3 linked regions of the Homo sapiens genome follow. The protein of the gene in region 1 interacts with the protein of each later gene in a pairwise test. Each region holds a gene or a part of one and is shown in the gene's direction. Other genes may lie near its edges.

Region 1 (7,336 bases):
ACCATGTTACATCCCCAACTGCACAGTATGACAGTTCTGGTTGTTCTGTATTCTCACCAATACTTAGCATTGTCTGATTTGTTGGGTTTTTTTTCACCCTTTGGCCATCCTGATGGTGGTATCACATTGTGATTCTAAAAATTCTCTAATGACTAATGAGGGTAAACTCCTTTTTATATGTTTTTTTCCACTTGGATATCCTCTTTTGTAAGATACCAATTCAAGGCTTTTCTTACTGATTTGTAGCAGTTCCTCATATATTCTGGATAAGAGTCCTTTGTCATATGCATCCCAAGTATGTTCTCTTCTTCTGTGGCTTATTTTCTTCATGGTTCCTGTTAATGACTAGAAACTCTTAATTTTAATGAAATCCAATCTACCACTTTTTTCTGATTAGCACTTTTTATGTCTTGTTTTAAAAGTTTTTACTTACCACAAGGTCAACAAGATATTCTCCTGTGTTTTCTTCTAAATGCTTACTTGTTTGATTTTTCACATTTGGATCCACAACCCATCTGGGATTGATTGTTATATACATTGTAAGGTAAGAGGTCAAGATTCCAGTTTTTCCATATGGATACCAATTGAACCAGTATCATTTACTGTACACTGTCACTTTTGTCATGGTAATATTTACAGGTCTATTTTGGAACTTTTTATTCTTTTCTTTTGGACTGTTTGTTTATCCCTGTGTCAAACCTACATATCAGTTTGGATAAAAGAGGCATCTTCACAGTATCCCAGTGGAAGTGATGATAGCAGACATCTTTGTTTATTTTTCCATCTTAAAGGGAAAGCTGGCCAGGTGTGGTGGCATGCGCCTGTAATCCTAGCACTTTGGGAGGCCGAGGCGGGTGGATTGCTTGAGCCCAGGAGTTCGAGACCAACCTGGGTAACATAGCAAGACCCATGTCCTTTGAAAAAGGCAGGGAAAGCTTTTAATCTTTCACTGAGAAGTATGACGTTGGATGTAGGGTTTCTGTAGGTATTCTTTCTCACAGTAAAGAACCTCCCTTCTATTCCAAGTTTGCTAAGAATTTTAATCTTGAATGGGTTTTGAATGTTATCACAGGCTTTTTCTGCATCTATTGAGGGGATCATATGATCTTTTTCCATTTTTATGTTAACGTGGTGAATTTATTGCCCTTCAGGTAGTAAACCTTCTTATATTGCTGAACTAGATCCTGTTTGGTTGTGATTTATTATACTTTTTATACATAACTAAATTTGACTTGCTGATATTTTGTTTGGGGTTTTTACATCTCTGTTGCAGAGAGAAATTATAAGATTCTTGTCAGATTTGGGTATCATGCTTATAATGAGTTGGGAAGTGCCATCATTTTCTATAATCTGTTTTCGTATGAGATTAGCCTTCTTTCTTCAAATGATGCTTGGAAAATTTGTCAATGAAGTAATGAGGTAGGTGTGTGTGTGTGTGTGTGTGTGTGTGTGTGTGTGTGTGTGTGTGTTTGGGAGCAGGAGAGGAGAATTTTCAATAATAAATTCAAGTTCTTTGATAGATATGAGTGTCCATATTTTCAATTGTGAAAACAGTTGTTCAAAGAGTAGCTGCCCTGTACTGAGACAGACGACCCAGATCCAGCAGTAACTGTGGACACGTTGACGTGGAAAGATATCTCATGCCTTCTTTTTTTTTTTTTTTTTTTTTTTTTTTGAGACGGAGTCTCACTCTGTCGCCCAGGCTGGAGTGCAGTGGCACAATCTCGGCTCACTGCAAGCTCCACCTCCCGGGTTCAAGCGATTCTCCCGCCTCAGCCTCCCGAGTAGCTGGGACTACAGGTGCACGCCACCACACCCAGCTAATTTTTGTATTTTTAGTAGAGACGGAGTTTCACCATGTTAGCCAGGCTGGTCTCCAACTCCTAGCCTCATGTGTTCCACCCGCCTCGGCCTCCCAAAGTGCTGGGATTACAGGCGTGAGCCACTGCGCCTGGCTTCTCATGCCTTCTTGTTAAAGGGATTCATTCTGACCCCTCCGCAAACACAATCACTTCAGCGTTTCAATTTCTCTTTCTTGGGTGCTCCCCCACCATTCTTACCTCCCTGTTGTTCATTCCATCCTGACCCCATTTGTCTACAGCAGGACATGCTCTGATGCTGGTGTTTCTTTTGAAGCTGCCGCCTGCAGTTCCTTTTACCTTCTTTTTAGATGTTCATGAGAGCGCAGTTTGACTATGATCCCAAAAAGGACAATCTGATCCCTTGCAAGGAGGCGGGACTGAAGTTTGCTACTGGGGACATTATCCAGATTATCAACAAGGATGACAGCAATTGGTGGCAGGGACGGGTGGAAGGCTCCTCCAAGGAGTCAGCAGGATTGATCCCTTCCCCTGAGCTGCAGGAATGGTGAGCCATTTTTGTGCAGGTGGAAGGGCCATGTGCCTGCCACAAATAACTTAGCTTCAGAAAATCTGTCATTTTGTTTGTAGTTTCTGTTTCTCAACCAAGGAGACCTCCTAGATTTCCTGGCATAATGGGTGGGGGAGGGTTAACCATGCGTTGATAAGCTGGACTGAGAGGCAACCACAGGCAAGGGAGCCCAAATAGCTCTTCATTCTTATGTGGGCCTCTTGCTTCCTTAAACGTTTTCCCCATAGTTACCAAGCACGTGACAGTGCTGGGACTGAGCCCTCCCTGGTCTCCTGTTTCCCAAGCTAGTGCGCTTCTACCAGCCATGCTGTTTCTGGGATTTCCTTGGAGTCCTGCAGAAAACAGTCGCATTTAAGTATGTGTCCTTTAGGCACATTCCTGGTACATGGAAGAAATAATTCCTGTCCCCGAGTCAGATTGCTCACTTAGTCCTGGTTACATCATAGGAATGGCAGAAAAATTCACAAAACAGTTCCAACTGATAAGACATCCAACACTGAGCCTCCCTCTGCCTGTGCAAACTTACCCCAGTGTAAAGATTACAACCATTGTGGGGTTGACACTGAATAGAAATATTAGAATATATTACATGTAGTAATACAAGTTATTGTTTTGTGAAGCAGTTGTTTTAGATATATATGTGGGGTGTGTGTATGTGTTTTGTTTATAGATGTATGTGCAATAATGGCTTGCAATGTACAGTGTATTTCTTAGAGTGAGGTAGGGTCATAAAGGTTTGAGACCTTTATGGTCTAGACCAAAGAAAGAGAGTTGTTTGTGGGTTGTGTCCAGAATGTGCTGACAGGTACTAGATGACACAGACTCAAGGAGCCAGGTCCCTGACTGAGGGCAGGGCACAGTGCAAGATGCACCAAACAGTGTATGGGGTGCTTTGCACACATTATCTCCCACTGTAATGGACACTCAGAGAGTGAAGGGGGTGCCATTAGAGACTGAGTGGCTGGGGGGGGTATGAGGGGAGGGGGAGGAAAGCTGACCCCTTGATTGTCTTTTCCTACCAGGCGAGTGGCAAGTATGGCTCAGTCAGCTCCTAGCGAAGCCCCGAGCTGCAGTCCCTTTGGGAAGAAGAAGAAGTACAAAGACAAATATCTGGCCAAGCACAGCTCGAGTAAGCTTTCTGAGCCTTCTTGCCCCAGGTTCCTGGCAGCATTCACGTGTTTCCCAGTCTCTGTAACCAGCAGAAAAGGGGAGGTGGTGCAGTGCGCAGCAGAAGGCGCATTCTACAGAAAGCATGTCATTTCTTCTGGTTTCTTTTTATTGAATCCATCTTCACAAGCTTGCTGCAGTCAGGCCAGTGGATGTAAAGGAGGACTAGTGGTGAGCCCACACCTGCTCATCACCCCACCCCTCACACAGAAGTAGATGTGGTGGGAGAGGGGAAGTGAGGCAAGAACACAGGCCAGAGGGAGAGGCCAGGGCCAGGTCATAGGGAGCTTCGTGCACCCTCCCTAGCGTTTTAAATTTTGCACTATAGACTGTGGAGCTGGTGAAGGGTTTTGAGCAGAGAATTCGCACGGTCAGCTTTCCATCTGCATTTCTCTTTTCTGAGACGTCACGTGCACACCACCAGCCAGGGAATGATCGTGGCAGTCTTGGGTTGTAGGCAGGTAAGGGGGTGGAGAGTCAGGATGACACCAGGTCTCTATCTTGAGCAGCTGGGTCAATAGCACCACCATCTTCTAAGATAAGGGACATTCAGGCAGAACCGAGATAGCATTGGCATTCTTCAGCTCTAAGTGCCAAGGGAACATCTGATACTGAAACTATGGAGAAGAGATGAGGACAGGAGACAAGAAAAGTTGGCTCAGAGAGATAGGGCAAGGAGGAAGAGAGGGTGCAAAAGTTAGATAAACTCCCTTGCTCAAAATTCCCTCACCACACTAAAAATACAGTCCAAAGTCCTTCCTCCACACCAACCTCCCTCGTCTCATCTCTAGTCACTTCCTCCCTGCTTGTTGAGATGTCGCGAGGCTGTTTCCCATTTCAGAGTGTGGACCACTGTTCTCCCTAGCTCTGGAAATGAACACTGCTTGGTTTTCTTTGTCTCTAGTTTTTGATCAGTTGGATGTTGTTTCCTACGAGGAAGTCGTTCGGCTCCCTGCATTCAAGAGGAAGACCCTGGTGCTGATCGGTATCTTCTCATTGCCCCATTTGCACATTTCTGTCTTTGTTTTCCTGCCTGCATCACGTGCCCACCCCCAAAAAAGGCAGTGAGGAAGAAAAGAACTGAGGTCTCTTGGGTTCTCCATATAGAGCAGGTGTAAGGAATTTTCTGAATCCTCACGTGCACCCCACCTGGGTCCACCTCACAAATGAAACTAAACCTTACAAGTTTCTCTACTATTTAGCAACGAATTATTTTTGGTTAGGTTTCATGCTGTCTGCTGGCAGTGATACGCTTTGTAAATCTCCCTTCCCCCAAGCAGTGACTCTGACCTGAAACAGAGTAAGTCCTTGCTTCAAACCCAGGTATGTAGGCTTTGCCTCTGGCGGACTGCTCACCTTCCTGTCTTTAGAGTTGACCCCAGCCCAGATGCAACCCCAACTCATGTTCACCTGTTGGCAGTTTTGAGTGCCGAGAGAGGAAAATCCGTATCTTATCCTCGCTCCTCTCCCCCCTTTCCAAAAGATGTTCTTCTCTCTCTACACAGGAGCCAGTGGGGTGGGTCGCAGCCACATTAAGAATGCCCTGCTCAGCCAGAATCCGGAGAAGTTTGTGTACCCTGTCCCATGTAAGTAGCTCTTAGGCACCTTGGAGGGGAGGTGACAGGCTGGTACCACTCGCCATCTGAAATACCATAGTGTTATTTTATTATTTTTTAAATTATTTTATTTTAAATGATTATTAAAACTAAACAAAATATGGAAAGATAAAAATTTGTGCCCACAATTCCTCCACCTAACAGAATAACTGTTTTCTTATTGTTATTCGTGCTGTTTGTCTACATAACAGAAGCTATAGTAAACATTTTGATACTGCCTTAAAAATTACTAAGTATTAAAGTTTATACATATAACTTTGTCATTTTACTTTTTAAACATTTTCTCATGTTCCTCTGCAATTTGCCTAATTCTCTTTGAGAACTATCCCACTCTTGATGTTCAGGCTGCCTCTCATTTTCATGGAATGTCTTCTAAATCAAAGCAGTGCCTAGGAAAGGCCCAAACGATCTCAACAGCAGTCCTAGATATGGAGAAGAGTAGCGCCAGTGATCAGGTGGAGAATTTGATAACTCTTCCATTCCCAGAAGTGATGCTGCATGGTATAGTTGTGTATGTTCCCAGAAAGAAATACGGTGATTCCTCACTTAATATTGTCAATAGGCTCTTCGAAGACTGTGACTTTAAGTGAAATGACATATAACAAGAACCAGTTTTTTTACTCATCAACAATACAATGAAATGAAGTTGAACTAAACCATGTTAGTCAACGACCAGCTGCATGTGATTTCACTTAAAGTCACATTTTCTAAGAACCTACTGATAATAATATTAAGTGAGGAATTACTGTACTGCTAAGCAAAATAGAAAACCAGATTCTAAACCTCATATTACTATTTTTTAATTCTTTCTTCATTTTGCTTTTTTACACATGGATCATTGAGAGTTGTCTCGTTGCTGGAGGGACATAAGAGTTATTCCAGTGTCACATTAGGAGCAGAAAGAGATGGCCCCAGGAGTGAGTGGGGAAGCAGAAATAACCAGTACAGGCTCCTCCTTCAAGAGAATCACATGTGGTTGTAGATTGAGGGGAAGGGGCCAGTTGAGAGACAAGTGTGATCCGGAAGGCAAAGGAGACAGTCAATGGAAGATGGAAAGAGGGGAGGTTGGGAGGATTGTGTTTCAAGCTACAATATCTGGAGCATATTTTACTGATTAGACAATTTATATGAGTAATAGAAAATAGTCCAACTTTTAACAACATGAGCTGAAACTAAACCAAAGTACTCTTCTTTCCAAGTCATGAAAAGGAAACCTTAAATATATTTCCAAGAAATCCTGACCATAGTCTGTAGATCTGTTTTTAAAATATTTTCCGCTATCTTCATTTCTAAGTTTCAATATTCCTAGATTTGGTAGTTTGAGAGATGTAACTTCATTTAGGGAAAATGATAATAGGAATTTTCTATGTTAGGCTTTGCCCCTTAAAAATTAAATGTGTCCTGGGCAGATGGAGGGATTTCCTGGTGTGCATCACTTTCTAGCATCAGCTCTTCAGGAGCCCACGGGAGGAACCCCTGTATTAAAGTCAATGCACCAAAGGCAGCTAGGGTTTCCATACAGACACCATGGTCCAAGCCCTCATGAAAGGGTGAGGACCTGGAGTTTGTCGGGGATTTGGGTTCTTGTACACAGATACAACACGGCCGCCAAGGAAGAGTGAGGAAGATGGGAAGGAGTACCACTTTATCTCAACGGAGGAGATGACGAGGAACATCTCTGCCAATGAGTTCTTGGAGTTTGGCAGCTACCAAGGCAACATGTTTGGCACCAAATTTGAAACAGTGCACCAGATCCATAAGCAGAACAAGATTGCCATCCTTGACATTGAGCCCCAGGTGGGTAGGCATGGAAGGGCAGGGACAGATGGGCTCAGCCACACAAGGGATGGCGAAGACAGTGCTCCTTGGGAATCTTCTGGGGGCTCAGGATTGCTTCAGCCTTTTAATGGGGTCAGCCTGGAACAAGAACAGTAGTACTGGGAATGATGGAAAGTTGTATTGGGGTAAAGCTCAAAGCTGCTTATTAGAAGGAATCCATTATGACAGCTATGTAGGTTTTTTTTTTTCACTTTCCTTTTCTTCCTTCCCCCCCCTCCCCGCCGCCCTTCTTTTTTTTTTCTAGACCCTGAAAATTGTTCGGACAGCAGAACTTTCGCCTTTCATTGTGTTCATTGCACCTACTGACCAGGGCACTCAGGTGA
Region 2 (7,746 bases), on another chromosome or scaffold:
TTTTAGGAAAGCAAATTGTCTGAGTGTGTTGACTGGAACGGCCAGATTTGGGCTTTGTTGGACTGCTTTTTTGTTGTTGTTTTTTCGACAGGGTCTCACTCTGTTACCCAGGCTAGAGTACAGTGGTACAATCACAGCTAACTGCAGCCTTGACCTCCTGGGTTCAAGAGATCCTCTTACTTCAGCCTCCTGAGTAGGGACTACAGGCACGTGGCTAATTTTTTGTGTTTTTTGTTTTTTTGTAGAGACAGGGTTTTGCCACATTGCCCAGGCTCATCTCAAATTCCTGCACTCAAGTGACCTGCCTGCCTTGGCCTCCCAAAGTGCTGAGATTACAGGTGTGAGCCACCATACCTGGCCTGTAGTGCTTTCAAAAAAGAAATGTATAAATTTAGTCCTTGTACCTGTGTAAGGGTGGCTTGGAATTTTGGAGCTCAGATGGCTCTGTTGAGTATGTGAGATGACTAACTTGAGACTTTTGCATGCAGCCACCTCATGCCTGAGTCAGAAGCGTGTCCCTTAGGTGTGCACTAGTGTTAGCTGACTAGGTAACCATGACAGAGTTTATCAATTCATTCGACAAACAGAATACCAAGCTAGGCCATGTGTCATGTGTTCCCATACCTGCACTATGTAAGTTTACTAATTACATTCCAGTGTTGTATAATTGCCCATATTCCCTACTCAACTGTAAGGACCAGGAGACCAATGACCATGTCTATCTTGCTCACACTGTATTGCCAGTATCTAGTACAGTGCTGAACACAAGGTAGATATGCAATGAATATTCTACTGAAAGAAATGAATGAGGCTGTATGCAAGATACTGTGCTAAGCAGGGAAATGGAGCAGATTGGAAGATAATAAAACTGGAACTTAGGGTCCGTGGAGAGACAACATGATGAACAGATGGAGCCAAATTTTGCAAGGGCAGACGCTTATGCAAACTGGGAAGATCAATTTGAGAAAAATAATATAAAATTTTAATACAGGCTGGGTGTGGTGGCTCATGCCTGTAATCCCAGCACTTTGCTGAGGCCGAAGTGGGTGGATCACTTGAGGTCAGGAGTTTGAGACCAGACTGGCCAACATGGTGAAATCTCGTCTCTACTAAAAATACAAAAATTAGCCAGGCATCGTGGTGCGCACCTGTAGTCCCAGCTACTTGGGAAGCTGAGTCACGAGAATCGCTTGAACCCAGAAGGAGGAGGTTGCAGAGAGCCGAGATCATACCACTGCACTTCAGCCTGGGCGATAGAGTGAGATTCTGTCTCAAAATAAATAATACAAAATTAAGCACGTGGTCCTGGAAGAGGTTCATGCAATTGAAGGGACTTGAAATTTAAGCTTCAGTAACTTCACAGTAACTCCATCTCTGGGGAGAAGTGGACAAATGTACTAACTACTGTGGAATCTCTAAAGATTGGTCAGAGATTTCGGCAAGGGAAAATCAAGGTTTCATAGAAGAGATCAACTGTGAGCTTCATCTTACAGAAACAAAGGAAACAAATTGCAGGTGGAAGAAACGTGCTAGATCACACAAGTGAGAAAAAGGCAGAGCGTATCTGTGGAATAGTGAGAAATACTATATGGTTAGTGTGGGGTTGGGTGAGGAAAGACTTAGGATAGTGGTTCTCCAGACGTGATCACAGGCCAGCAGCATGGACTTCGAAAGGAAATTTGTTAGAACTGCAGCTACTCAGGCCCTAGTCCAGATTTACCCAGTTCTCTTCATCCCATATCCCAAAATAAATTGTAGACAAACGAAAAAGTTAAAGCAAAAAATGCAACCAGATCCTGCATAGAAGAAAAGATTATCTCAGCAAAAGGCCAAAAATAGAACTTGCAAAGGAAAAGATTAATAGACTTGCTTTCACTACAATTTAAAATGTTTGCACCACTAACAAAATTAAAAAACAACAAACTGCAATTACGCCTGTAATCCCAGTACTTTCGGAGGCCGAGGTGGGCGGATCACCTGAGGTCAGGAGTTTGAGACCAGCCTGGCCAACATGGTGAAACCCGTCTCTACTAAAAATACAAAAATTAGCCCCGTGTGGTGCCACGCGCCTGTAATCCCAGCTACTCGGAGGATGAGGCAGGAGAATCGCTTGAATCTGGGAGGCGGAGGTTGCAGTGAGCCAAGATCACGTCATTGCACTCCAGCCTGGGCGAAAGAGCAAGACTCTGTCTCAAAAACACACAAACAAACAAACAAAAAACATAAAGAATGCTCGTGCTATACTAATTGGAAAAAAGAACCTGTTAGAAAAAAACACAGCCAATATTCTAATTTTGAAAACAAATTTTTATGTCAGTATAGGTATAAAAATAACGGAAAGATAGAAAGCAAAATGTTACCATTGATGAGCTCAGGGTTGTGAGATTATGGTAAATTTACTTTTGCTCTTTGTACTTTTCTGTTGTCTCCATTCTGTACTAAAAACGTAACTATTTTCTAATCAGGAAGAAATTAAGTGGCCGGGCGCGGTGACTCGCGCCTGTAATCCCAGCACTTTAGGAGGCCAAGGCGGGCGGATCACTTGATGCCAGAAGCTCAAGACCAGCCTGGCCAATATGGTGAAATCTCAGCACCACTAAATATACAAAAATTAGCCAGGTGTGGCAGCTCGCGCCTGTAATCTCAGCTAATCTGAAGGGTGGGGCACGAGAATTGCTTGAATTTAGGAGGTGGAGATTGCAGTGAGCCGATATCCCATCTCTGTACTGGAGCCTGGGCGACAGAGTGAGACCGTGAGAAAGAAAAAAGAAAAAAAAGAAAAGGAAGGAAGGAAAGGAAGGAGAAATTAAGCTATTCTACAAGTGTGTGAAAAAGTTGGAAGAACGATGTTTTAATAGCCCTGAATCAAATTTATAATAGTATTTAACAAACTCTACAATTTAGCACTCTTGAGATTTTAGGGTTTTATCCCAGCTATCACCCTCCCTTGGAGCGGGAGATGAGGAAAAGAGGGACCCAAAAATGAAACTGAAAAACACTCCAGCTAATCAAGAACTTGAAATTGCTTGCAATTTGTGACTATGTTAAACAACATCTAAACAAAGTCAAGCTCCTCTAAGTGCAAACAATACGTGGGATGCTGGGGAGAGTGTGCGTTTACTTTCACTACAAAATGTTTTGGAGTAAAACTTCATTTTGAAATATAAAGATTTTGTTGGACACAAGGCTATGTGGTAAGGCAAAATGGTAAGATGGTGGCATGACACCCCCTTGTGGTTTCCACCGATTCCCGGTTCTGTGCTAGATACTAACTATTCTAGGATTTAAAAATGTCTCTACATTTCTTCGAACTTTAATTCGGGCCATACTAGCATTCGTGAGCATTTATTTGAGCTGAGTACGCACATAAAACTTAGGAGGTCATAAAAACTGAGCCTCACAAACAAGTAGTGTCTCTTTCAAATATAGCTTTATCTCCTGGGGGATGGTGAAGGGATCAGAGTAAAGTCTGTGATTATTACTTTCCAGCGATTGATTGGTTGATTGGCATGTGGTTGTCAGAAAAAGCAGTGGACGTGAACAAAGAGACATCATTGCAGCCCTAACTATCCGAGTGACCTTGGGTACCTGATAATCCACATGGCTCTCAGTCATCCTCTTAACCGTTTGAACCTCAGGGGTTTAGGCTACCAAAATGAATTAAGACCCAGTCTTTAGCTTCTCACACATTTACTTTTCCATTTTGTAAAATGTGACTAAAAACCTCAACTCATTGTCAAAAGGACTGAATTAAACATATCACCACACTTGCACAGAGATCATTTATGGAACCATGTTCACAAATTTATTTATGCTCGTGTAATTTAATCATTTCTACAGCTGCTCAAAGAAAGTCAAAGTCGAGAAAGGACTTAAATCGTCGAGTCCAGTCCCCCTTAACTCCTCATTCATTCCACTATTTCTCGAGCCAAGGAATCGGGTGAAACTCAACAACGACTCGCAGTCTTCAGGTTTCACCCTCTTGCCCTGAGGGCAGCATCCTAGCCCTAGGTGGTTCTCTGGTGTGGCCTCAGTAAAACCGTGACGAGGTCCTCGGCCTCTCTGTCCCCAACAGGCGGCTGGCACACTTCGGGGTCTGAGATGCCATCTGCCTTGCCTAACCTGGGCAAGACCACTCGCGTCCTTTCCCTTGAGGAGCAGCGTGGGAAAGGTGCCGCTGCGCGCCACGTTTCTCCCAGTTCCCCAGGGCTTGAAGGGGCGGTGGAGGCGGGCGGGATAAATTCGCTGGCCGCCTGGCGTGGAGTAATCCTAGAGGGTGGGATCGCCCTCGGGGCTCGGGAGGGGCTCTTCCCCGCCCAGAAGGAGACTGCGGCGGCGCAAGGCCTCCGGCAGGGGGCGCGGGCCGCTGGGCCTCCCCCGGGGCTGCGGGCCGGTGGTCCCTCCCAGGCCGCGTGTGCGGTGCGTTCGCGCAGCCCGCTCCCTGCCCCCACCTCACCTCGTCACCTCCCCGCCCTCTCGGCGGGCCCCTGAGGTGCGCGGCGCAGGCGCGGAGCGTGGCGGCCAGGGCAGTGCGGCCGCGGAGCCTAGGCCAGGGGCCTGGCGCTCAGGGCGTGGGGCGCGCGGGGAGGGAGAGGGGTCGGCCCAGCACAGCGTCCGGGAGCGCTAGGGCCGGAGCAGCGCTGCCCGCCGCCGTGCGTCCGCGGGAAGGACCGCGCGGCCCCTCCGCCTGCGCTCTCGGCCGCCGCCGCCTCTGCGTGGGCCGGCCGGGAGGGCCTCGGGGGACTGACTGGTGAGTGTGAGGGAGGAGCGGGTGGGTCGGGCGCTGGACTGCTCCAGGGGACGCGGGCGTGCGGGCGCATCTTCTAACGGGAGAGGGCGGGAGAGACCGGAGCTCCCTTTATACGGAAACTCTGCCTTCGTTATATGGCGGGATGGCGTTCCCCTCCCCCATCCCGAAGGCAGTTCCACCCCCTGCGCAGGACGCCTTGGCCGGGCTCCCCTCGGCCCCCTGCTGCCGTTGTCTTTACGGAACCTTTGGTGTCGGGGCTTGGAAGTCTCCTTGGCGCCGGCTTCTGGGCCCGGGCGAAGCTGGTGCGTGGCGCCGGGGTGGAGGCGGCTAAGTCCCAGGGACTTCTGCCCTGCGCCTCCGACGGGCATTTGTCTGGCTGCGTCCGGGCTCGGGACGATCCTGGGTCCTCGCTGGCGCTGCGGCCCTGCCCGGCGGCTTCGTGACCTCCGGCGGCGAATCCCCGGGCTCGCGCAACGAGTTGTAGCCGCGGAGAGCAGGCGTCGATGCTGGCGCCCAAAGCCTCCAGCCTGAGAGTCGCCTCACTCGTGTGACGGTGCTTAGAAACCCCCTTTTTTGGTTTTGTCTTTAAGTACTGTCTAGGGAAACGAATCATTTGAAGCAGTTTATGCCTTTTTTGTTTTTTTCGAAGAGAAAGATTTATGCCGGACTGAAAAATAGCGAATCAAGTATTTAGTGACCGTGTGATATTGCAGTAAAGACTGCCTCCACGTTGGACATGTAGTGGATTCTAGTTCAGGCTCTCCTGCAACATGTTTTTGTTTCAATTCTTTTACAATTTAAAGCATATGCTTATTTTAATGAGAACGAAAAAGAAAGCTTAACTCTTTTTAAACTCGTTAAAAATGGAGTTATTTACTGTAAAGACGTCTTACAGCAATTAGGAAGAATATACATTGCATGAAAGGCCTTTTGAAACGTTTATCTATTTGATGATTGCTGACTGCCTGTTGTATGTATTCTATTTTGTGCATAGACTTTCTTGTTGGTTGAAAAAAATGACAGGTGGAAAGATGTTGGTTTCTAGGTGATATAAAAAATTTTTAAACATTTTTCTGATTTTTCTGCAGTGACACGTGTTACATATGTCGTTTGTATTTCAGAGGGAGGGGGGACTGTGATAGGTTGCTTGTGATTCAGAATCTTCCTGCTAAGAAGACTAGTGAGCAAATGTTTATGACATCCTTGAGTAGAAAGCTAAGTTTTTTCAAGGCTGTTATGCACACAAAAGGCACATAAAAATGATTGCTAAAATGAAGGATGGTTAGCATTTTTGGTCTTGAGTAGGCATCACCATTGTGCTGAAAGGAAGTCCGATAGACATTTGGTTATCGTTCGGCCCTAAGTAGGAGTCAGACCCTTCCTGATCCGTGTGCCTCCTCCTCTCACCTAACAGCCTGAATCCAGGCCAGCTTGCAACGTTGATTTTAATACCACGCTTGGTTTCCTTTTCTTACTTTTATTCTTCAAGTTGCAAAGAACTTGAGATGCATTCTGAAATAACAAGAGACTACTTAACATGTTCGGCTGAGTGTTTTCAGTGTTCTCCCTGATACTTTTAGAGTATTTAGAACATGAAGTGTGAAGCTTTGGGCTATATGAATCGTAATAGCTCTTCTCTTTTTGATTTTTGAATGCAGTGAATTGAGATGGTTACTCAAGGAATGATTGTTTACATTGTTAGGTGAGGCGTTTGATTTTATTCTTTTTTCTTTCTTTCTTTCTTTTTTAGACAGAGTTTCACTCCTGTTACCCAGGCTGGAGGACAATGATGTGATCTCGGGTCACCACAACCTCCGCCTCCCGGATTCAAGCGATTCTCATGCCTCAGCCTCCCGAGTAGCTCAGATTACAGGCATGTGCCACCACGCCCGGCTAATTTTGTATTTTCAGTCGAGACGGGGTTTCCCCATGTTGGTCAGGCTAGTCTTGAATTCCCGACCTCAGGTGATCTGTTCGCCTCGGCCTCCCAAAGTGCTGGGATTACAGGCGTGAACCACTGCACCCGGCGAGGTGAGGTATTTTATATATTGGTATCATTTCTGTACATTTCATGGTTGTCTGTTTCTTTAGGCTATTCTGTTCCCCTTCTCCCAACTGGTAGCTAAGAACTGGAAGCAAGATGTGCATGCATTTTCATCTCTGGTTCTCCCACTTATTAGTTGACTTAACTTTCACTAAGGCTGTTTCCACATCAGTAAAAATGTAAATGGGTTTGATAGTAACTCCTCCATGTACCGCACAGGACCATTTTGAAGATGAAATAGAATAAGGGTTAGGAAAATGCTTAATAAACTGAAAAGGCCGGGCGCGGTGGCTCACGCCTGTAATCCCAGCACCTTGGGAGGCCGAGGCGGGCAGATCACGAGGTCAGGAGATCGAGAACATCCTGGCTAACACGGTGAAACCCCGTCTGTACTAAAAATACAAAAAATTAGCCGGGCGCCTGTTGTCCCAGCTACTTGGGAGGCTGAGGCAGGAGAATGGCATGAACCCGGGAGGCGGAGCTTGCAGTGAGCCAAGATAGCGCCACTGCACTCCAGCCTGGGCGAAAGAGCGAGACTCTGTCCGAAAAAAAAGTAAAAATAAAATAAACTGAAAAAGCACTATCTCATTCCCTGCTGTATTATATCACTTCAGTGCTGATATACCCAGAACTTAGTGAAGCAGCAAAAATAGTATGTGCACCTCAGCTAGAACACCTGTCATGTGTATCACCTTGGTGTTAAGAGCATTATAGGCCGGGCGCGGTGCCTCGTGCCTGTAATCCCAGCACTTTGGGAGGCTGAGGTGGGCGGATCACTTGAGGTCAGGAGTTCAAGACCAGCCTGGCTAACATAGTAAACCCCCGTCTCTACTAAAAATACAAAAATTAGCTGGGTGTGCTGGCGGGTACCTGTAATCCCAGCCTCCTGCTGGCGGGCGCCCGTAATCCCGGCCACTCAGGAGGCTGAAGCAGGAGAATCGCTTGAGCTGGG
Region 3 (7,336 bases), on another chromosome or scaffold:
CATGCCAGACCTTCTAGAAGGCTCTCTGTCACTATGTTTGCTACTCGTTCATTCAGCTAGCAGCTATTGAGTGCCTACTGAGTGCTAGGCACCAGGATAAAGCAGTGAACAAGGACCTGCTCTAAGGTACACTAACGGGACCGGATGATGTAACAGACAGAGTGGGTGGAGAGGCTGGGCACGGTGGCCCACGCTTGTAATCCCAGCACTTTGGGAGGCCAAGGTGGGCAGATCACGAGGTCAAGAGATCGAGACCATCCTGGCCAACATGGCAAAACCCCATCTTTACTAAAAATACAAAAATTAGTTGGGCGTGGTGGTAGGCACCTGTAGTCCCAGCTACTCAGAAAGCTGAGGCAGAAGAATCGGTTGAACCTGGGAGGCAGAGGTTGCAGTGAGCCGAGATCATGCCACTGCATTCCATCCTGGTGACAGAGCGAGACTCCGTCTCAAAAAAAAAAAAAAAGAGTGAGTGGAGAGCTCTCTGCTGGGGAAGTCCAGGCAGTGGCCCTGGGAGCACAGCACAGGAGCCTCCCAAGGTGGAGGTGGGTTGGAGAAAGCACTCCTTGTGGAGGCAGGAGGTCACTGGGAGGAGAAGGCATCAGTGGAGTGTGCCAGCCAGGAGTAACCATACTGGAAGAGCCTGAAGTAAGAGGGAATGGGGGCTGGGCACAGTGGCTCACACCTGTAATCCCAGTACTTTGGGAGGCCAAGGTGGATGGATGACGTGGATCAGGCGTTCAAGACTAGCCTGGCTAACATGGCGAAATCCTGTCTCTACTAAAAGTACAAAAAAATTGGCCGGGCGTGGTGGCACATCCCTGTAATCCCAGCTACTGGGGAGTCTGAGGCAGGAGAATCGCTTGAACCCGGGAAGCAGAGGTTGCAGTGAGCCACGATTGTGCCACTACACTCCAGCCTGGGCGACAGAGCGAGACTTTGTCTCAAAAAAACTATTTTTTAAAAAGAGGGAATGGGGGAGCCTTATAGAGGATCAGGGCTTCAAACCCTGGTGCGTCAGTGGCAGCTGAACAGATCTGTGGAGTTAGGACCAGCCCCGGGCTGTGGCCCTGAGCAGAGGCTCTTAATGGGGGTGACGGTATGGGGATGGGGCTACCCACAAATAAGCCCTGCCCCTGGCGCTCTGATAACCACCTGCCCCCAGCCACCCACCAGAGCGTCACTGGCACAGCAAACACCACTTTCAAAGTGTTAGGTGGTATCCCTTTGCTGAGGGAGGAGAGGGGCTCTTCCCTGGGCATCTGTGGCATGTGGCCCAGCTCTAGTCTGGCCTGTGAGCCCTTCTTGATGACCTCTTCCTGCAGGTATACTTGTCACTCATCCCCATCATCAGCGGTGTCCTGCTGGCCACCGTCACCGAGTTGTCTTTTGACATGTGGGGACTCGTCAGCGCCCTCGCCGCCACGCTGTGCTTCTCGCTTCAGAACATTTTCTCCAAAAAGGTATTTGGTCACCATCAGCGGACATGCATGGGGTTTCAGGGGTGTGCGGGCAGCAAACTGGTGGCATTGGGAAAACAGGCGGAGTAGAAATTTCTTTGCTATTAGAGCAGAAAAATCTTGATTGCCATTCTGCTGATTTTCTGTTTGTCATTTTGCTTTTTAAATAGTTTGTTTTTCTGGCCGGGCGCAGTGGCTCATGCCTATAATCCCAGCACTTTGGGAGGCCAAGGCGGGCGGTTCACTTGAGGCCAGGAGTTCAACACCAGCCTGACCAATATGGCAAAACCCCATCTCTACTAAAAACATAAAAATTAGCCAGGCACGCATCTGTAATCCCAGCTACTCCAGACACTGAGGCACAAGAATTGCTTGAACCCAGGAAGCGGGGCTTGCAGTGAGCTGAGATTTTGCATCACTGCACTCCAACCTGGGCAAGAGTGAGTCTCCATCTCAAAAACAAAAAAAAGTTTTTCTATTATAAAGTTAATGTGCTCAATAAGAAAAAAATAAAGAAAAGCTCTTTTATTGAGACCAAGGCTCACTGTCGCCCAGGCTGGAGTGCAGTGGCACAATCATAGCTTACTGCAGCCTCAGTCTTCGAAGCTCAAGTGATCCTCACACCTCAGCCTCATAAAGCACTGGGATTACAGGCATTAGCCACCAGGCCTAGCTAAAAACTTCAATTTAAAACAAGATTTTAAAACTTGTTGAAGCCTAGTGCAGTGGCTCACATCTATAATCCCAGCACTTTGGGAGGCCAAGGCAGGAGGATCACTTGAGGCTAGGAGTTCGAGACCAGCCTAGGCAATAGGAATAGAGTGAGACCCCGTCTCAAAAAAAAAAATTGCTCTTAACTCCTGTGATAATCACACACTTTTCAGGTACCACAGTTAATGCAGTCTCTCTATTGGAAATACCACTTATTTCCAACTTTTCATTGTAATGTAGAAACAATCACGTGTGTGATGTTTTCCTGTCTCAGTTATTTCATTATGATAGGCTTACAGTTCTCAGGTTAGAGGGTATGAAACGTTAATCACTCTTAATATGGTTTGTCTGGTCGTATTTTAGAAAGGTTATACCAATTCAGCCTCAAACCAGTGGAATTTCAGAGTGCCTACTTCACTTCATCCTCACCAGCACTGAGTGTTACTGTTTTATTTTTGTTTTCTTTTCTCAGTCGTTTATGCGTGGAGCATGGTGCTTGTTTCAGGCCTGTGCTGTGTATGTCCTCACAAATGCACTTGCAGGTTTGGTGTCCAAGCTCAGATGTCAGGGTTAATGTCCAGTCACTGTGTTTGGGGCCTGAGTCACTGGAGCCCTTTTTGCCACATATAGTTTTAATCACCCTCTAAAGAGGCTTTCCCTTTCCAGGTCTTGCGAGATTCACGGATCCACCATCTCCGGCTGCTCAACATCCTGGGCTGCCACGCCGTCTTCTTTATGATCCCCACCTGGGTTCTGGTGGACCTCTCGGCTTTCCTGGTCAGCAGCGACTTGGTGAGTTGTACAGCACCAAGAACACGCCATTTTCTTGGCTAGTTCCAGAATAGGTGCTTTGTTGAGGAGCTGTAGCTGCATGTTAACATTGTGGTATCTTTTGGGCACCTGACAGCCAGCGCTTTCAGCAGTCAGTCCTCTGTAATGCCTCACGGTGACGATGCACGCCATCGAGGAAGTGGGTTTCCTGTGTATTTCCTTCTCTGGTGTGCTTGATCCCAGGTGCTGATAGCTGCTGTGTGTGCGCCAGTAGCGTCAAGGAAGAGAAGGTGACTCTTTCACCTCCTGACAGTATAGTCCAGATAGCACATTGACTTTTTATTTTTACTCATTTTTTATTTTAAATGTTTATTTTTTAGAGACAGAACCTCGCTCTGTTGCCAGGGCTGGAGTGCAGTGGCACAATCATGGCTCACTGCAGCCTTGACCTCAATCCGGGGCTCAAGCGATCCTCCCACAGCCTCCCGAGTAACTGGGACTGCAGGCGAATACCACCATGCCTGGCTAATTTTTTTTTGTTTGATTTTTGTTTTTTTACTGTTTTTGGAGAGACAGGGTCTCACTATGTTGCCCAGGCTGGTCCTGAACTCCTGGCGTTAAGAGATCTGCCTTGGCCTCCCAAAGTGCTGGGATTACAGATGTGAGCCACTGTGCCTTGCCAGCCCTGGAACTTTGAAAACTATGCACTGGCCAAAAAAAAAAAAAAAAAAAAAAAAAGCCGGGCGCAGTGGCTCACGCCTGTAATCCCAGCACTCTGGGAGGCCAAGGCGGGCGGATCACGAGGTCAGGAGTTTGAGACCAGCCTGGCCAATATGGTGACACCCTGTTTCTCCCAAAAATACAAAAATTAGCCAGGCATGGTGGCTCGCACCTGTAGTCCCAGCTACTTGGGAGGCTGAGGCAGAAGAATTGCTTGAACCCAGGATGTGGCGGTTGCAGTGAGCCGAGATGGTGCCACTGCACTCCAGCCTGGGTGACAGAGGGAGACTCCGTGTCAAAAAAAAAAGAAAAAAACATGCGCTGCCTGGGTGTGGTGGCTTACGCCTATAATCCCAGCACTTTGGGAGGCCAAGGTGTGTGAATCATTTGAGGTCAGGAGTTCGAGACCAGCCTGACCAATATGGTGAAATCCTGTCTCTACTAAAAATACAAAATTAGCCAGGCGTGGTGGTGCACGCCTGTAATCCCAGCCACTTGGGAGGCTGAGGTGGGAGAATCGCTTGAACCCAGGAGGCAGAGTTTGCAGTGAGCCGAGATCGCACCACTGCACTCCAGCCTGGGCAACAAGTGTGAAGCTCCGTCTCAAAAAAAAAAAAGAAAGAAAGAAAACTGTGCAGCTCAGTTCCTCCCTGGTCTCTGTTTCCATTTACTCCACGTCGAATCTTTTTGCCACCTGCAGGGTCTGCCTTCAGAGAATGTGTTATAAATGAATGCAAGTGCCTGCGGTGAGGAGGAGGCCAGTGCGATTCTTCCAGACTCGAGTTAGAAAGGAAAAGTAAATATTTATTGAGGTCTTAATGTGGTCTAGCTGGATTTGTGACATTTCTTATCTTTAATCCTTGGCTCCACCTGCTGAAGTAGTGGATATTACCTCTATTTTCCCAATCAGTAAACCATGGCTCACTTTTCTAACTTTCGTTTCACATTGATGAGCTGTAATTCTTCTGTGAAGAACTTTCCATCTTCCAGGACTAGTTTGTTACCTTGAAGTATGGTACGAGAAAGGCAGTTTAATGCTTAACTGTTCCTTTTGATGACTAATTTTCAGGATAGAGAGTTGGAGCTTACTCCAAATGTTGACCAGAGTTGAGGGTTTGTTTGGGGGTAGGGAAGGGGTTCTCTTTTTTTCTCCAGCATCATTGTGAACTTTTATGTGTTTGTCAGTTGCATGAATTATTCGTTTTCCTAGTCAAATTGTCCTGTCTTGGCCAGGCGCAGTGGCTCCAGCCTGTAATCCCAGCACTTTGGGAGGCCGAGGTGGGCAGATCACTTGAGGTCAGGAGTTCAAGACCAGCCTGGCCAACGTGGTGAAACCCCATCTCTACAGAAAATACAAAAATTTGCCAGGCATGGTGGTGCACGCCTGTAATCCCAGCTACTCAGGAGGCTGAGGCAGGAGAATTGCTTGAACCTGGAAGGCGGAGGTTGCGGTGAGCTGAGATCGTACCACTGCACTCCAGCCTGGGCGACAGAGCGAGACTCCATCTTAAAAAAAAAGAAGAAAAAAAAATTGTCCTGTCTTAGCCATTGGAGCCCTTCTGATTGGCTCCTTGCCCTTCTAGCACTGTGGGTCAGCGTTTCTCCCAGCGGGATGCCCGCCTTCACCTTGTGTACTTCCCATCCCAGAGCTGCAGTCAGCCCCTCCTTCAGGACTCCAGGTGCCGTTAGTGGGGAGCGGTATTTAGAGACACAATCCAGGTGCCATGGGTGCTTTTTGCTGCTGGGTGGTCATTGTTGTTAGGCCTTTACTGTGAAAAATTAGGAAGTACACACTTGGGGCAGCAGCAAAGAGTTCCTAGCAATTAGCGTCACTTTCAGTTGAACAGTCCAGATCTTTGCTGTTTTGAATTTCATATTTAGATCTCGTCGCTGGTATGCTTGGTTCCGCTCCTCGTTTCTTAGTTGCTTATTCTACCCGTTATTCACTGATGTTATTCTACTGTACACTCACTCATATAATTGCTTCAGAATGAGCATTCTCACAGCACAATTGCAACTGGAGTGCTGAGAAAAGGTTAGTATTTCTTTGCAGGCTGGGTGTGGTGGCTCACACCTGGAATCCCAGCACTTTAGGAGACCGAGGTAGGTGGATCCCTTGAGGCCAGGAGTTCGAAACCAGCCTGGCCAACGTGGGGAAACCCCATCTCTAGAAAAAATATAAAAATTATCTGGTGTGGTGGCGTACGCCTATAATCCTAGCTACTAGGTAGGTGGAGGTTGCAGTGAGCTGAGATCACGACACTGCACTCCAACCTGGGTGACAAAGTGAGACTGTCTCATAAAAATAAAAAAAAAGAAGAAGTCTGGTCATGATTCCTGTACTCTCCCTGTCCCCTCCCTGACCATGGATAACATTTCTTAGGCTCCTAGTTCACCTGTTCCATATTTTTGCAAATATAAGCAAATTTGCATGTATAATCACCCTCTGTCCTTATTACACACAGAGTAGCTTTTTATTTTATTATTTTATTTTATTTTATTTTATTTTTTGAGACGGAGTTTTTCTGTCTCCTAGGCTAGAATGCAATGGCATGTTCTCGGCTCACTGCAGCCTCCGCCTCCCGGATTCAAGCAGTTCTCCTGCCTCAGCCTCCCGAGTAGCTGGGACTACAGACACCCACCACCGCGCCCAGCTAATTTTTTGTGTGTTTTTACTAGAGGTGGGGTTTCTCCATTTTGGCCAGGCTAGTCTCAAACTCCTGACATTAGGTGATCCACCCACTTCGGCCTCCCAAAGTGCTGGAATTATAGGCGTAAGCGACCACGCCCAGCCCAAAAAGTAGCTTTTTAAATTTACAGGTCAGGCACAGTGCCTCACACATGTAATCCCAGTATTTTGGAAGGCAGAGGCAGGCAGACTGCTTTAGCCTCAGGAGTTTGAGACCAGCCTGGTCAACATGGTGAAACCCCGTCTCTACGTAAAACAAAACCAAAAATTAACCCGGCATGGTGGCACATGCCTGTAGTCCGAGCTACTTGGGAGCCTGAGGTGGGAAGATCACTTGAGCCCGGGAAGGTCAAAGCTGCAGTGAGCCATGTTTGAGCCACTGCACCCCAGCCAGCATGACAGAGCAAGACCCTATCTCAAAAATAAATATAAACATACAGTCATCCTTCCATATCTGTGGGTTCCACACTAGTGGATTCAGCCAACTGCGAATTGAAAATATATGGTAGAAAAACAAAATACTATAATAAAGAATAAGACATTTTAAAATAATACAGTATAACAATTATTTGTATAGCAGTTTTATTGTATTAGGGATTACAAGTAATCTAGCGATGATTTCAAGTATATGGGAGGATGTGCATGGATTACATGCAAATACTAAACCATTTTATAAAAGGGACTTGAATATCTGTAGATTTTGGCATCCGCAGGGGTCCCTAGAACCAGTCCTCCGTGGATACTGAAGGGGAGCTGAACTATTCTGCACCTTGTTCATTTCATCTCATCGTCCCAGAGAGCTCTTCATAACGACATAGAAGGCCTTTCTCATTTCTTGTACGGCTGTGTAATAGTGTCAGTGGGTTTCCTGTCAGTTCCTCTGCTGTTCTGTGTTACAGCTCATTAGAGTATGTATGTGTCCACACATGGACAGAAACATACAGGCTTTTGCTGTGTTTTTTTGTCTTTGCTTTTCTTGCACTTA

The links. The genes of interacting proteins can lie anywhere in the genome.
Region 2: the proteins of MPP1 (region 1) and ZNF639 interact in binary tests that used the Homo sapiens proteins (3 or more experiments, as listed by UniProt).
Region 3: the proteins of MPP1 (region 1) and SLC35E1 interact in binary tests that used the Homo sapiens proteins (3 or more experiments, as listed by UniProt).

The regions. Positions count from the first base shown.
Region 1 is NC_000023.11:154,781,235-154,788,570, reverse strand, and holds part of MPP1 (55 kDa erythrocyte membrane protein), read left to right. Parts: intron 1-2,170; coding exon 2,171-2,367; intron 2,368-3,413; coding exon 3,414-3,520; intron 3,521-4,462; coding exon 4,463-4,543; intron 4,544-5,063; coding exon 5,064-5,144; intron 5,145-6,768; coding exon 6,769-6,971; intron 6,972-7,257; coding exon 7,258-7,332; intron 7,333-7,336. UniProt on the Homo sapiens protein: Essential regulator of neutrophil polarity. Regulates neutrophil polarization by regulating AKT1 phosphorylation through a mechanism that is independent of PIK3CG activity.
Region 2 is NC_000003.12:179,318,542-179,326,287, forward strand, and holds the start of ZNF639 (zinc finger protein 639), read left to right. Parts: upstream 1-4,489; 5' UTR 4,490-4,750; intron 4,751-4,804; exon of another isoform or gene 4,805-5,720; intron 5,721-6,408; exon of another isoform or gene 6,409-6,452; intron 6,453-6,500; exon of another isoform or gene 6,501-6,781; intron 6,782-7,746. UniProt on the Homo sapiens protein: Binds DNA and may function as a transcriptional repressor.
Region 3 is NC_000019.10:16,562,159-16,569,494, reverse strand, and holds part of SLC35E1 (solute carrier family 35 member E1), read left to right. Parts: intron 1-1,325; coding exon 1,326-1,463; intron 1,464-2,837; coding exon 2,838-2,963; intron 2,964-7,336. UniProt on the Homo sapiens protein: Putative transporter.